2 separate regions of the Homo sapiens genome follow, and region 1 is linked to region 2. Evidence: fine-mapped expression QTL. A gene starts in region 2. The other region holds a variant in brackets. All regions are shown on one strand. Distances are from middle to middle.

What was found. PIP is the estimated chance that this variant, and not a neighbour inherited with it, causes the effect.
Region 1: its variant is fine-mapped to the expression of FAM163A in cerebral cortex (GTEx, PIP above 0.99).

The regions. Positions count from the first base shown.
Region 1 is chr1:179,761,169-179,766,543 of GRCh38, reverse strand. All of the region lies in intron 1 of FAM163A (family with sequence similarity 163 member A), which reads right to left. Among named protein-coding and RNA genes, the nearest start is that of FAM163A, 21 kb to the right of the region's middle. The variant T/C (reference allele first, on the strand shown) is at 2,486.
Region 2 is chr1:179,740,671-179,746,045 of GRCh38, reverse strand. It overlaps FAM163A (family with sequence similarity 163 member A), which reads right to left and starts at 2,755. Exons shown (of 5, transcript NM_173509.3): 1 at 2,623-2,755. LOC128071543 (a long non-coding RNA gene) reads right to left here. Exons shown (of 2, transcript NR_138090.2): 2 at 3,349-3,691. RefSeq lists an enhancer at 766-1,458.

The DNA.
Region 1 (5,375 bases), 20 kb before region 2:
AAGACCCAAAGATACAAGGGGAAATTGTTCATTTTTACGCTTAGGTTCAACAAAGTATGGGCAGCTGTGTAGAAATATGATTGGACACAAAGGGTCTGATCTAATGTGAATAGACTGAGTGGGGAAACCCAGCCAGGCCTGTGGGTCTGGATTCTTCTTGGCCCCTCTGAGCATGAAGTCCTTCCTCTGGGTGTGGAGCAGGGCCCTCTCTGGAATGGGGGGTCTCATGACCTACAGTCAAACAAGGTGGGTCAGATAATTTCTTTATGGGAAAGCGGAGGGCAAGTTAGGTTAATATTTTTAGGTTTCATAGTTGGCTTTGGGGAAAAGGGGTTCTGGTTTCTATGACCTGTCTTGGGGAAGAGAGATTCTAGTTCCTATGGCTGGACTTGGGGCAAAATGGGACTGAGAGACAGGAATGTAGGGGAAAGTCAGAGAAAAACTTGTGCTTCTGAGGCCTTCATCTTGGGGTATTGTTTTCTGAGCCTGAACAAGGCTTATTTCTGGAACCCAGATTGTTTGGGACAGTTTTGTCCATTCATCCATCATGGAGCTGTAAGAGCCCTTCCAAGGTGGCTGAGAAAGTATCAGATCCCTCCTAGGCAAGGTCACTCTCTGTGAGGGAGTTTTTGGGTAGGGAGCCTGGAGGCCCAGCTTTGGGGACTTCTGTCATTTCAGGCCAGCCATTCTGAACCTCCTGTAGTCACACTGACCATGTGTCATTCCCAGGCACTGGGGGGCACTACACCCTTTGTCCACCATTCAAGAGAGCAAAACCATGGATGTGAGAGAGAAAGACTATCTAAGCAATAGTCTCGAACCAGCTCTGATATTTAAAATCAGCAAAAAAAAAAAAAAAAAAAAAATTCCCAAAGCTCAATTCCTTAACCAGTTGTTATTAACTTTACCTACAATACTCACCACAGATCTCAGCATCAGCCCCACAGACCTTTCATGCCCCGATGGCTTCACCACTCTCTAAGCTGCTCCCCTCAAACACTCTAAGCATATCTAAGCAACTCCCACCCCTGTCCCCAGCACTAATTCTATTTTAGGGTCCTCAGCTGGGCAAGAATATTACCGTCTTTTACTTAGACTCCCACAGGCTGACACATGATGTGGCCTGGCCACATGTTTGTGGCCCATGGAGTGGTCCCAAACCGGCAGTATCTTTGGGAGCTTATTAGAAATGCAAAATTGTGGGCCCCACCTCAGACCTGCTGAATCAGAATCCACATTTAACAAAATTTAACAAGATGCCCAGGTGCTGTGTGTGCATGTTCAAGTCTGAGAGTACTGCACTTGGAGATCACATCCCACCCGCCTGCCATCCCTCAATCCTGCCAACAAGTGAAGTGGGGTGACATCCACTTTGACACAGAGCAAACCAGCCTCCACCAGCGGCAGCCATGGGGCGAGGAAGAAAGGGAAGAGGTGGACGAGGAAGGGGGTTGCTACAACGTGTGGAGTGCATTTAAATTGGGGGGCACTGAGATGAAATCTAAGGAGGCAGCCCATCAGTTCTGAGATCCCGCGATCTCTGTGATTCATCAACAGGCAGATGCTGACAAAGTAATCATGGCTAACAATTACTGAGCTCTTCTTATAAGACAGGCACTATTTTAAGTAAAAGAGCATTTCACGTATGGCTTTATATAATTCACACAGCAACCTCCTGAGGTACAGATTGTCACTACCCCCTTTTTACAAATGAGGCAACTGAGGCACAGAGAGGTCAAGTGATTTGCCCCAGGTGACAGGGATGTGTTGCAGAGCTGGGACTTGTACCCTAGCATGTGCCCAGAGCCCATGCTCTTAACGAACATGTGAGACCACCTCCAGAAATGCTCTCCCCCAACAGCCGTTTCTCTGAAGCAGTTACATACCTCTAGGGCGAACAACCATCCTGGTTTGCCGAGGACCGAGGGGATTCTGTGGATTTCAAACTTTTAGTCATAAAATGGGGAGAGTCCTTGACAAGTTGATTACCCTATCAATACCTCATCTACCATGGAAGGGTAACAGAAGGAAAGTAAATTAAATTTAATAGGAAATCTTTGAGAGTACAGAATTTGAGCTGCTGGAGCACTGAATGAGAGGTTGCACAACCTGTTTCCATTTGAAGAACCCCAAAGTCTATCCACGAGACTTTGAACAAGCTTCACTCCCCAATCATGGCTCAGTTTCTCTGTTCCTCAAAATGGGTATATTCTTATCTGCCTCGTCGTTCCCGCCCCTTCTGCCCAGATGTCATGAGAATAAACCAGAGCCTGTTGCTAGTGGATGCAACACCACCAACGTCCTGAGACAAAGTGGGCAGATAAAAATACTGGCTAGTGTTTCCCTTGTCAAGGTCACCCACACCCACACAGGTGTTCCCATCATCTATTTTCTGCAGTGCTGCCAGCCAGTTCTGTGACACTTGTTTCTTTTGAGCCCTGGGAAGAGTGCTTGATTGGTTCAGCTCTCTATTTCACCTGAGAGT[T/C]GTTATGATTCCCCAAATAAAATACAAAGAGCATGCACTCTCTCTCTCTGTCTCTCTTTGTGTGTGTGTAGTCTTTGAGAAATAATATTTAAAAGCAGTTCCCCATCCGAGTTGGATGGGACTGGCAAAGAAGCAGTGGAAGGAATTCAAGGGGAGGAATTCAGACTCCTCCACACACCCAGCTAAGTCCTCTAGGAGAGAAACTCTCCTCAGCCAAGGGAAGGCACTTGTCTTGTACCCATTGCACAAGTCCAAGCATTAGGATTTCTCTGCCATTTTGGGGAGGAGGTCTGGCCTTCAGTTTCTGCATCTGTAAAATGGGACTTGCTATAACCTACCACCAGAAACCCTGTGTCTCCTCTCAGGCTGAGCTTATAGTCCTCCAAAGTCTCCTATGCCCTTTCTCAGAAATCAGCTAAATCTTCAGGTCTTTCCTGATTAACCTTATTAGACTTCTGATTAAAGAATTACACATCCTTAGAGCAGGAAAGTAGGAAAAAGCAGAGTGCATCCCAGCTGCCTTCATTTTTCAGAAGAAACTAGCCAGTCTGGTGTTTTTCAGCCCCTTTGCTCACAACAAGTTTTTTACAATTATTTCGATGGCACTGCTCTGTAATGCTACAGTCAGTGCATATTCTCTGTCCAAGGAAGCTGTTGTAGGAGACCAGAACGTGCCATGCCAAAATATGCCTCTTTGGCATAAGGATGATTTTGAGCTGATTATTTTGAGAAACAACAGATACAGGAGAAGCTCTGAAAAGAGAGTAGAAGTTACCCTTTTGTAAGGGAAAGTTACATCTATAAAGGAAATCACCATTTGTAAGGGTGTCTGTAGCAGGAAGAGAAGCATGGCTAAATCACGAGAAGGTCTTACTAATGGAGCAGGCTTACATCTGCATAACAGACTTTATTCTGATAATTTGCCTGGTCATCTCCCCATAACTGGCCTCCCCCACACCCTTCTTTCTTTTGCCTTTAGCTGAAGATGGTGTTTAAGCCTGAATTCTAAGCTGCCTCTTTGAGATTTACTTATTTTTTCCCTAAGTATCTCCCATGTAGAGATGAAGTATACATGTTGACAAATTTCTATTTGTTTTTCTCCTGTCGATTTGTCTTTTGTTACAGAGAGTCCCAGCTATGAACTCTGAAAAGCAGAAGGAAAATTATTTTTTCCTCCCCTACCCTGGGAACTCCTGGAAGATAAGGACCATCATCATGTCGCCTGAAGTATTTCTCTCCTAGGCCCCCACAGTGTGTGTTCACAATGGCCTCATTCCCCTTGCTGGCTAATGCAGAGCTGGAAGAAGGTATATTCAAGCCTTTTCTTGCACAGCAAGGAGGATGACTAAGGAGCTAAGAGATGTGAGCCGAAGCCTCCCTCAGTGTCTATTTGCTGACCCAATAACCCATCTTGAGCATTCCTGAAGTTGGTGAAAACCAGCTCTTCACTTGATATAATCTTGAATAAAAAAAGAAAGCATTTCCCTCAAATGTGCCCCAAGAAGCTGTGCCATTTGGGCCTCCTTCTCCTCTGTGTCCCTAGACCATGGGTGAGGCAGGCAAATTGCTAGGACAGGGAAGGACCTTGTAAGCAATCTGCAAATGAAAACAGCAGACATCTAGCCTTGTGCATAGGAGCGCAACCAGGTGAACACCTCTCCTCTCCCAAACCGTGACAGGACTGACTGACCCACATACCCAGCATGATCCCAATTCTCTGCAGCCCTGGAAAAAAGACTCTCCTGATGTTTACTCCCATTACAGGCATCTACTTATAAATCTTGGGTAGAAAACAGAAAGAACCATTGAATTCTTGCCACATTCATTTGTAGCAGCTATCTATGAGATAGGTTTCTAACATGATTATCTCTCCCTGCCTTGATACGATTATATGACCTTTTAAAATCATTCTTTCTTTTGTCCATTCATCCATCCATCCATTCAACAAGAGCATTTGGTATCTGCTTCCTGCCAAAATCAATGGGACATTTTCCAAGCTTTAAAATTCCTGGCCGTTAAGCAGCACCCTTTCAGTAGGGAAGTGGAGGAGTGGGGGGTGTTCAGTGCAGAAACGATGTTAAAACACAAGCTCTGTGATTCACCAGCAATTCCTTCTCTCTGAGTCTCCGTTTCAACAGCTCTAAAATGGGAATAATTCCTCCCAGAACTGCTGTGAGGTAAAAGGGAAGAATGTGTTTAGAGCTATACTCAATAGCTGATGCAAAAAAAAAAGGCATTCAATCATTATTAGCTTAAAGGAAGTGACCCAAAAATCCAGTTTGCTGCTCAATACTCGATTATCCTAACACCTCACCGACCCCAGTCAACATTCTCTCCCACATTCATTTTGCCTCTTAGGACAGTGTTCTTGGAGTTTCAATCCTTCGTTGAGCCGGCCCTGTCTTTATTCTGACTGATGGACTATACTATTTTGAGAATGTGATCTGTATCAAAGTCAGCTGGGAAGCTCTTGGAGCTTCTGGGAGGATGGATACATAAAGTCCAGTTAATAAATAAAGACACAGACATCAAGGCTACCGGCTGTCGTAGTAACAAGACTTTATGCTTTCCTGGCTCCTGTCATCTTCGGGACTGAAAGCACTTAATGAATTAGTCTCGCTTGCAGTCCTCCTGGAGAAAAAGACTGCTGTGTCTACAATGTGCAGTCACGGTCACCAGCCAGAGGTCAATCGCTCTTGTGAACATTGCCAACCAGATCCCTAGAGCAGCTTTGTTTGTTGTTTGCTTCTTATCATAAAAGTAATACTTGTGTATTAGAAAAATGTTAAATTACGTAAAAGATAAAAACTAAAATTTGCTATAACTCTGTCCACTTGGAGATAAGCATAGCTAACATTTTGCGATACCCTCATACACACAAAATGCACAT
Region 2 (5,375 bases):
GTTAAACCCTTGAGTGACAGAGAGAAGGAAGTGCTGGCTGTTTACCAGGCCAGCACTTTCTGAAGTCTAGAGTCTAATGGGGTTATAAATATCTCTTGGATCTACAAGTAAGAGTCTTTATTCACGACAATTCTGGATTTCCAGCTACCACATGTGTGTCTGTTCTTAATTGGAAGAAAGTGGCCCCGAGGAAGGAGTAGTGACTTTGGAACCAAAGAGACCTGGGCTTCAAGCTCTGCTCTGCCATTAACTAGCTTTATGATCTTGGCAAATCGTTTACCCTACCCCCAAACTCAGTTTCATCACACGAAAAATGGGGAAATAATAGTAATTTTGCAAAACCTTGTGTCTGGCACATAGCAGGTACTTAATAAATGTTAGCAACTTTCATTAATGTTAATAATCACCAGGCCAGATTCTAAACCCCAGGGCACTTTTCACAATGGACAGACCCTGGAATGGCCCTACCAGAGTCAAATGACTTTTTTGTTAAGTGGCCACCCAGAAGATTCCCAACTTCTCCTCTCATCCACCTCAGCCTTGTAAAGTTTGCAGATCAGGAAAATCCCAGCGTGGGCCTCTGGGTGAGGACTGGACTGTGCTGGGGCCAGGCTCCCCTGTTACCAGCTGATGTTTGCACTCAGGCTGAAGCACTCCCTGAACTAAGCCGGGGTCATTTCCAGTTACAGACGGCAAGCTAGAGAAAAAACAGAGATTCTTGGGCCAAACAGGGGGACCTGCTCTCATCTGCACGAGCCCATCTCACCTTGCCTTTCCAGAACAGTATGCCTGATGAGGTCACTGAATGCAGATCTCTAGCCCTGGCAGGGCCGCTGCCGATCTGCCTGATGCCCCAGCAGGACCCTCCGAGAGCCACACATTACTTCCCCTCTGGACGCCAGCATGACCCTGTCTGTACCTGCTGGTTTAGATTCTCTTAGGCATGGGAACTGAAACCTCCCTAGAGAAGGCTAAGAAAATCTGTTTTCAGAGCATGTACCTTTACTGTTCCTTCCCCGGGGTCCACCTCTTTCAGGGTCTGAACGTCTGTTACATGCAAGTATTTCATTAGGGCAGAAGGAAAGCTGCCTTTCCCCTCAGGACACAGACTCCAGCGAATCTTAGGCAAAGCGAACATGCGGGATTGAAGCCCGCAGTTATTGTTTGTCTCCCACACGACATAAAACATGTGTCTGGCTCAGCTGCTAGAGGACCAAGCAGGACACAGACGCAACTGCGCAGACGTCGGTCCTGCCAGCCACGCTGCGGCCCCCTCGGAATCTCAGGATGGGGCCCCCTGGGCGCCCTGGGGGAGGGCCCAGGTGGGCGAAATGACAGGAGAAAGTGCCTGCGGGCCTCCGCCTGCAGGTTGGATGACTGCGTCCCCGTCACGTCAAACTTGCCAGGACTAGCAAACTTCCAGGGCCCCACAGTTCCACTCAGAGGAAAGGAACCCCCAGTGTGACAGGAAAACACGGCTGGTGTGTGTCGGCCAAAGGGCGCTGACCGAGGGAACAGATCTGCACCCCTGACTTCCCTCGCGGCCTTCGGAGCCGCAGAGAACCAGGATGCCACCCACCCAGGGCCCCGGCGCGCGGCTCTCGGCCTCTACCCGCCCCACCCAGGCCAGGCCGGGTGGCGGGGTCCCAGCAGCCCAATGCGGGCCTCGTCCCCACACTGCCTTCTGCTTGCCCGCTCTGCTCTCTGCTTGGCCAGGCCCCCCTCTGGGCCGCGGGGCGGAGGCTTCCGTGTGGCCGGCGCCTTGAGCGCGCAGGGCCCTCTGGAATCGGAGTGCGGTCGCCCGCTCTGGGGCCTCGGGAGCAAGGACACCGCGGCCCCACGGGCACGTCCGGCTTCTCCGTCCTACCCCCGCTGTCCTGGCCCCAGACTCGCTGGCCGAGACGCCGGCTCCCACAGGCCCTGCCGCCTGCATGCCCACGCCGCGCCGCGAAGGCACTTCGCCCTCTTTATTTTGTAAAACTTCGGAAAAATCACCAGCAAACCGAGCCCCGGTCTCAAGGCTGCCCACAGTTGCCGGCACGAATCCGGACTCACTGACCGACGGCGGCGCATTGGCCCAGCAGACCCCGCCGGTCGGCCCCCACCCTACCCGGGTCCCCTGCCCCGGCCTCATGCTCCCCGGGTGGCGGCGGGCGCGAGGCGCAGCAGCAGCAGCGGCGTCCGCGTGAGGTCCGGCCCGGCTGAAAGCGCAGAGAAGCGGGTCGCTGCAGACACGCTGAGTAGAGCGCCTTCGGCACGGCCCGGGGGCAGGGACCCGGCAAGTCCGGCCCCGAGGCGCGAGCACCGCCACCCGCGGTCTGGCCACGAGGCCGGAGATGCCCCCGAGTCGCCGCGCCCCTCGGAGCGAGAGGCCCCTGGCGCGGAGAGGGAGAGCCAGGGCGCAGACCCAGACCCAGTGGGGAACTGCTACGCTGAAGGCGGCGCGGTGGGCAGAGGGAGGCAGCCGGGGCGCGCTTACCCGGGTGTTGAGGCGCCCTCGAAAGTACGCGGTGGCCAGACACATCCCCGCGCGGAGCCCGAGCCCGGCGGCTCCTCAGCCCGCCCGCGCCCCGCCCCGCCCCTCCGCTCGCTCCCCTGCACGATGAGGCCCCGACCCGTTACCGCGGCTGAGCAGCTCCGCTCGGGCAGCGACTCCCGCGTTCGGCTCCCACGGGGTCGCAGCGCGTCCTTCCGGGCGCCAGCGGCTGGGGCGGCACACGTGAGGCTCCGCGGCCTCCCCGGCGCTCCGAGGACTGCCCTGCTCCGGGCGTGGAGCCTCATCGCCCCTCCAGGTGGCCAGGGCTGGGGGCAGGTACCGCGCGACCTGATTGGCGCTGGCCGGAGTCCGGGGAGAATCCCCCGCCAGAGAGGCTGATGCACGCGGGCCAAGTGAAGCCACGCAGTCAAACAGCGCAACGGGCGCCTTCCAAACACCCCTGCTTAGCTCCGCTGCCTTTTTGCCTAAGAAATGTAAACGCGGGAGGCGGGCGCCCTGGGAACGCCTCAGTACAGGGGACTTTGCGCCCTACAGATCGGGTCCAGGACGGAAAATTCGGAGAGCATGAGAATCTTAGGGACCAGGGTGTGTCGCTATCCACTGGAAAGAGACTGCCTCGAGAGCCTCCCGAAGGGCTCCTCTGTGTTCCTATTTCCGGCCCGCACTGTGCCCTGGAAATCCAGGGACACCTGGATGTCCCCGCCGCTGAGGGGTACCCGGGCCTCGTGGCAGGGCGGGATCAGATCAGTCAGGGTGTGATTAGAGCTGTGACGGTGAAGTCTGGCAGGAAGAGGCAGGAAGGGAGAGAAGCAATGCCTCGACACGAGGAGAAACCTGAATGGTGCGCTAGATTTCTTGTCTGAAATCACCTTCTTTTAATGTCTTAAAACTCTAGGAGTTGCTTATGTGCTGTAGCCCAGCCAATAAGTTCTGACATCAGTAATTCAGAGGGTCTGCTGAGAGAACATGACGGCCTGAGAGGGGATAAGCTGTCACTTCTCCGCACTTCCGAAGCATCTCTATATGGAACGTTTACCTGTTCCGGTCTGATCATCTTTCTCTTGATCCTGCTTTCCGATCTTGATTGGACTGAAGACAGCGAGGACAGAGGGGTGGGGTCAACCCGGTTAATGCTCGAGGAGGGAGCGTTCCCACTACATCAACAGTTTTCCTCTCTTCTTAGGCAGGTTAGTTCTGGGGATTCAAGGCAAAGGTGATCAGGGAATCCATTTGAAAAACAAAAACAGAAAACTCCAAAACATTTAAAAACTGTGGACCCTCAGCCTAGGTCCAACTTCTAAAGAAGGGGAGTAAGAAATTTAGCACCTGGAGCAACCTTATTATTCCTAATACACTGTTAAAAAACAAAAATCCCAAGGCAAGCCACCACCTCATCATTCCAGCAAGTCTACTGTTGTTGCAGCACACTCCACTTTTTACTCTAACTCTACTCACAGGTTTTACATTTTGAGCTCAGATTTTCATGTGCCGTCTTTTCTCAGCACAGTTAAGGCTCGTGCCTACATTCTTCCTCATCTCAAAGGCAAAACAATGAAATATGAAGAGGACGTGTGATTTTGTTATAAACTGTAACACAGAAAAGTGAAAACAACGTACCTTCATAGCCTAATGAATCATAAACCAAACACCACCCAGGTCATTGCTACCACCCCAGAGGTTCCCCTGCTCCACCAATTCCCTTCCACAAGTCCTTCCCTTCCCCCTAAAGCAACTATCCTGACTTTATGGTAATTACTTCCTTACGTATCTTTATAGTTTCTACCAATTTGTAATGTATCCCTAACCACTACAGTTTAGTTTTGCTTGGTTTTGAACTTTCTATAAATTGAATAATATTGCATGCATATTTTTGTGTGTGCCTGGCCTCTTCTTCCATTTGGTTGTAAGAGTCATCTACTTTTGTGGCATGTAGTTGTAGTTCATTCATTTTCATTGCTACTTAATATTCCCTTGTATGGACATATCACAATTTCTTTGTCCATTCTGGCACTTTAGATATTTGGGTTTTTCCCATTGGGGCTATTACAAGTGCTATTGCTAATGACATTTTTGTGTATATCTCCTGGTATGCAAGTGCAATCTTTAGGATGTATACCTTGGGGTGAAATTACTGGACTATAGGGTATGCATATATTTAGTTTTATTAGATCATGCCAAATTGTTTTCCAAAGTGGCCACAAAATTTAGACTCCCATCAGAGATGTACGGTAATTGCCATTGCTCCGCATCCTTGCCAAAATATAATATTATTAGACTTCTTATGTTTTGCCAGTCTGGCGGAGATGTAATGGTGTCTCACTGTGATCTTCGTTTCATATCCCTAATTACCAATGAAATTGGGCACTTCTACATATGTTTATAGGCTACTTGAGTTTTCTGTTTTCTGAGTGCCTGTTCAAATGTTTGCCCATTTTTTTGAGCTGACTTTTTCTTATTGATTCATAAAAGCTGTTTATAAAGTCTAGCTGCTACCATGCCTTGGTCAGTTAGAGACTGCAAGTATCTTCTACTCATTTAATGGTATCTTTTGATCAAGAGTCGCTTTTTAAATTAGAACTTTCATTTTGAGATAATTGTAGATTTGTAGGCAATTGTAAGAAATAATACAGAGAGATTGCAAGTACCCTTCACCCAGTTTCCCTCATTGGTAATATCTTGCAAAAACTATAGTAAAATATCATAATTAGGATATTGACATTGACACAGTCAAGATACACAACATTTCCACCACCGCAAGATCCCTCATATTGCCCTTTCGTAGCCACACCTGTTTCCCCTGTGCATCCTTCCCCATCTCTAATCTCTTGAAACCACTTACCTGTTTCCCATTTCCAAAATGTAAAATGGTACATTTTGT